2 separate regions of the Homo sapiens genome follow, and region 2 is linked to region 1. A link means that fine-mapping ties the variant in region 1 to the expression of a gene that starts in the linked region. Tissue or cell type: sun-exposed skin. Region 1 holds a variant in brackets; the other region holds the start of a gene. All regions are shown on one strand. Distances are between the middles of the regions.

Region 1 (2,853 bases):
TTCAAAAAAAAAAAAAAAAAAAAGGTACAGAATGTTAGAGGAGTGAAGAGAAAGCAGTAATCAGGAAATAGTATTATAGCTTTAAAAAGATTCCCATTTTTACAAAGGTGAAAGTCAAGGCAAGTCAGATATGGTTCAAAGGGGGAAGCAGGTTCTATCAACGGGCAGTGGTCAGGTGGTGTAGGACCTGAAATATCCTGGTCTGACTTTCAAGGTGCTCCTCAGCAGACAGTGAATCATCTTAGTGTCTCCCGCTCACTCAGGCCCTATGGTGTAACTATCTTCGTCCACCCTGGGCACTTTGTCCAGCCACCCACCAGGCAGGAAACCTCTTGACCTGTCTGTATGAACAGACAGCTGCTGTAAACTGGCATTCAGCTTTTGCTAGACAGCTCCTGGAGGCCAAAGTCATCTTCCAGACCTAGAGAAGGATGAGTTATTTTCCAGGAGGACTACTCTTTAAAAAGCATGACACAGGCATATCACAGCCATGCCCTCTACGTGCCCCTGAAGGAAAGCTGTTAAAGACCAGAGCAAGAGTGGAGAGATAAGAAAAGCTACCTGAACATAAATGACCTCTTGCACACTGTTCTGTGGCCAGAGCATGGCCCCAGGGGAGCTGTGTTCCTCCTCCAGTGAATTAGACCAGCTGTCCACAAACTGAAGGATGTCACCCCTTAGATGGGATGTGTGTTCCACATCTTCAACTTCTGCATGTCCTCCTTAAAACTGATTGTCAGGGAAATTCCTGGGGTAGCTCAGTGGGCTGCTCCCCTGCCTCTTGTACCTTTCACAATCTCCCTTCTCTCTGTTTACAAGAGAAGACATACACCTTTTACCATCCTGAAACTTATAATACACCGTCCTGGTAATCCCAGCACTTTGGGAGGCCAAGGTGGGCAGATCACCTGAGGTCGGGAGTTCGAGACCAGCCTGACCAACACGGAGAAACCCAGTCTCTACTAAAAACACAAAATTAGCCAGGCATGGTGGCACATACCCGTAATCCCAGCTACTCGGGAGGCTGAGGCAGGAGAATCACTTGAACCTGGGAGGCGGAGGTTGCGGTGAGCCAACATCATGTCATTGCACTCCAGCCTGGGCAACAAAAGCGAAACTCCATCTCAAAAAAAAAAAAAGAACTTGCACCAAACAATGGGACAATAAGAAAATTTAGAGCTAAGACAGGAGAGTCCCATGAAAGTAAAACTCCTTTTGCTTTCTCAGAAGGCACCCCTAAAGGAGCAATGCCTGGGTCACCTGCGCCAGCTCTATCTAGTCACCTACCTCAGTGTTAGAAGTCAGCAGCGCAACGATGTCCTCCAAAGCACAGTTCTGTTGAATTTAAGTCAGTCAATGATATGGTTTGGCTGTGTCTCCACCCAAATCTCATCTTGAATTGCAGCTTCCATAATTCCCACGTGTTGTGGGAGGGTGCCAGTGGGAAATCATTGAGTCATGGGGGC[A/G]GTTTCCCACATACTGTTCTCATGGTAATGAATAAGTCTTTTCAAACAACTTTTCAACAATGTTGAACAGAATAAGTCTTTTCAACAATGAATTTCAAAGTCTTTTCATCAAACATTTGATGCTTTTATAGGGGTTTCCCCTTTCGTTTGGCTCTCTTTCTCTCTTGCCTGCTGCCATGTAAGACGTCCCATTGCTCTTCCTTCATCTTCCACCATGATTATGAGGCGTCTCCAGCCACATGGAACTGTGAGTCCATTAAACCTCCTTTTTTTTAAGAATTACCCAGTCTCGGATAAGTCTTTATCAGCAGCGTGATTAATACAGTCGAGTAAACTATTTTTCTGTCAGAAAGCAATTCAAAGTTAGCTGATTGGTCTGACAATGAGGGCTGGCTTTGCCCACCAGGTGATACAGATGGTGTTTTTCATAAACTAAACTGGATACGCTCAATCTGCAACTATTTAAAGCTCAGAAAATGTGTGGGAAAGAACATCCTTTGCAACTATTAAGGTGATAAGGCAAATTTAGATGTCAACTTAAAAACACGCAAGGAGGCACATGATTATTCACAATTATTTTAGGGGGGTATGTGAGAAAACTCTGGAAGACCATTGAATCTTCCAGTTCTCTTCAAATTAACCAGTGTTGGGAAGTTCGTTTAACCACCTAGAGTTGCGATCCTAGTTTTGCTCTGCAGAGGGCAGCATTGCTAAAATATTATTCGACTGTAAAGAAAGGATTTTTTTTTTTTTTTTAACAAGCTCTTTCTAGGCTAACTTACCTCTCCTGTCTTGTGGCATTTTTTTTTTAATTCTTAATTTTTAATTTTTGTGGGCACATAGTAGGTCTATATATTTGTGGGATACATGAGATATTTGGGTACAGGCATGCAATGCATAATAATCACATCATGGAAAGTAGGGTATCCATCCCCTCAAGCATTTATCCTTTGTGTTACAAACCATCCAACTATACTCTTTTAGTTATTTTTAAATGTACAATTAAATTATTATTGACTATAGTTACCCTGTTGTGCTATCAAATACTAGGTCTAAGCTTCAGCATTTATGGCCTCGAGGAGAGAGTTGCTATTTGACCAGAACAGAAATACAAAAGGCCTCTGTGTCAGGCACATTTTTCCAGGGCAGAAACAGCATTTTTTTTTCCTTTACTAAACAATTATCTGTCTTTCTGGAGTCTAACACAGTGCCCAGCACCAACAAGCGAGTGCCCAAAAAGTGTATGATGGATGAAAAGTAGTGCAGTCTCCAACTCCAGGGAAGCTTTGGGTTAAACATGCAAGACATGGCTCACCAGCATTCCTGAAACTCTAAAACCTGCCTTGATCAGATTGCTGTAAGTTCAAATAGTCCTTAGAAAGAGCAG
Region 2 (2,650 bases), 73 kb before region 1:
TCAAGAGTTTATGTGGCTGAGTAGATGATAGAAATTTCTAGAAGTCTTATGTTTCCCACAAATTATTTTATAATTTGCATTATTTATGTAGTGTTGAAAGGGAGATTTGGTTGGCTTGCCTTAAATTATACCTCCCTTTCTCCTAATACATATTACTCTCAGGTATATTTCAGAGACAGAAAAATATTTTGAATGACCTAGGTCATCTGTTTTTATGCTGACCACCCATTAGAACCACCTGAGAAGTTTCTGGAAAACAAGATAAAATACTGCAGATGACTCACTGATCTCCAAAAGTTAAGCTTCAGTTATTCTAGGGGTAATTTTCTAATCTCCTCAGAGTCGGGTGATTCTGGCCAGATGTGCAGCCAGGGTTGAGAAACACTGATTAGGGTCCCAGTGGGGTAAGGAACAGATTATATGCTCATGATCTCACATACTCTTTCATTCTCATTGTGCCTCTGAGCAAAACCATTGAAATATATGTGCTCAGATTTAACTTCTTCTACCCCTAAAACAAGACACTGAATGGAAAAAATATATCTTATATAATAGAAGGACCCAAACTATGAAAAAGAGGATAACAGCCAAAAATGGAGGAAGTATAGTAAAGTTCCTCAATGCAATAATATGCAGCAGCTTTAATTTATGATTACAAAGAATTCACAGCAACATGGAAAAACCATAGACTGATATGGAGGAAATGAATACAAACTTGTCCATAGTGTAGGGACGCAACTATGAAAACTAAAGTTATATGTGCATACACACACACACACACACACTCACACACACACACACACACACACACACACACACACACACACACACACACACACAAAGGGACGATCCCCAAAATATCAATAGAGGCTATTTTGGTGGAGAATTTGGCTTCTTTCAACATTTTTATACTTCCACAGTATTTTTTAAACTACCATGTACATGATAGGAAAATAACATTTATAGTAGAACAAAACAAATTTACTTTTAAAAAATTACTCCTCTGACTATTATGTGATCATCAAGTCATGATGCTCAACACTGAATTAACAAAACAAAGATTAAAATGCCCACCTGAAGGTCTCTGTCTTTCAGCTGCCCTGGCTTCTGCTGCCTCTATCTCTCCTGCCTTTCTCCTCCGAGTAATTCAGGTTGCTCATTTCAAAGAAAAGTGAAAGAGCAAATTATATTTATGAACAGTGCCAACCAATAGCAAGCAAGTCAGGAAGTGTAGCAGGTCATCTGTGCTTTTTAGAAGCCATTGTAGATGTTAGTGCAAGCTCCCTTCTCAAGAAGGGTGAAAATTTCCAGTTAGGGGCTATGTCTAAAAAGAAGAAACCTAAAATTGCCCTGCCCCTCTAATGACTGGTTTTTTGTCATTATCTTTCTCAAGAGATCAAGCGGATATGATGGGTTAGAGTCAGGAATTTTAAGTGGCTTTTAGTTCTCCTAAATGGTTTCTGTTTCCATGGCAACAGAAATAGCAACATTGCCTTACACACATAGCACTTTAGACTTTTTTAAAGCACTTCCCTCACTCACTTGCATTTTCAGCTCACTTGCACTCAGGCAGAGACCTTATCCAGTCTGCTGAAAATGTTCTGTCAGAGGTCACCAAAAACCTCCTTGTTGCTTACATAAAAAATCCTTTCTCAGTCCTCACCTTCCTTCCCCTCTTGTTTGCATAGTTGACCATTGCCACTTTCCTGAAACTTTTCCCTTTTTTCTCTGACTTTCCTGGTTCTTTTTCTACCCCTCAGATTGCTCTTCTTTGCCTCTCTTTCTGATGCCTCTTCTTCCACCCCTTTTCTACGTGTGAGCTTTCCCCAGAGGTCTGTGTTCTGACTTCTTCCCTCCTTCTCTTGCTTTTACCTATCTGATCCACAATCATGGCCAAATTTAATGTGGCCCAGGTGGAGCTTTTCTCTTCCTCTCTTAGTCCTGCATCCCCCCATCTACCCTGTCTAAGCAAATGGCACCACAATAATTTAGCCAGTTCATCCATCCATAAACCTAGAAGTCACTTTTAACTTCCCTCTTTCTTCCACCACCCACTTCTGAGCCAACAAGTTCCATTTGTTCTGCCCATAAAATATGTTCCAAATCGAACCATTACTCATCTCTCCATCACTGTTCAAATCCTCGTTTCCTGCATAGAAAGCTGCAGTAACATTAAGCAAGAAAAATAAGTAAAAGGGATCCAAATTGGAAATAAATAAGTAAAATTTTGTCTGTTTGCAAATGATAAAATCTTATATGTAGAAAAACCTGAAGATACCATGCACACACACACACACAAAACCCCAATAGAACTAATAAGCAAGCAAATTGAGCAAAGTTGCAGGACAGGAAATCAATACACAAAAATCAGTTGCATTTATATACACTAACAATAAACAATCCAAAAATGGAAACTAAGGAAACTATTCCATTTATAATAGCATCAAAATGAATAAAATACTTTGGATATATACTCAGTAGTAAGGTTACTGAATCTTGTTGAGATCTCTGCACTCTCATGTTTACTGTAGCACTATTCACAATAGCCAAAATATGGATCACCCGAAATGTTCATCAACAGAAAGATGGATGAAAAATGTGGTATATATTCACAATTGAATACTATTTACTGATTTAAAAAGAACAAAAT

Evidence for each region. PIP is the estimated chance that this variant, and not a neighbour inherited with it, causes the effect.
Region 2: it holds the start of CYSLTR2, and the variant in region 1 is fine-mapped to the expression of CYSLTR2 in sun-exposed skin (GTEx, PIP 0.98).

Annotation. Positions count from the first base shown.
Region 1 is chr13:48,579,701-48,582,553 of GRCh38, reverse strand. The region is part of intron 1 of LINC01077 (long intergenic non-protein coding RNA 1077); the gene reads left to right. LINC00462 (long intergenic non-protein coding RNA 462) reads left to right here and starts at 1,653. Exons shown (of 3, transcript NR_051983.1): 1 at 1,653-1,713. LOC105370202 (a long non-coding RNA gene) reads right to left here and starts at 1,363. Exons shown (of 3, transcript XR_941958.4): 1 at 1,288-1,363; 2 at 562-808. The variant A/G (reference allele first, on the strand shown) is at 1,467.
Region 2 is chr13:48,652,442-48,655,091 of GRCh38, reverse strand. CYSLTR2 (cysteinyl leukotriene receptor 2) reads right to left here and starts at 1,163. Exons shown (of 5, transcript NM_001308476.3): 1 at 1,075-1,163.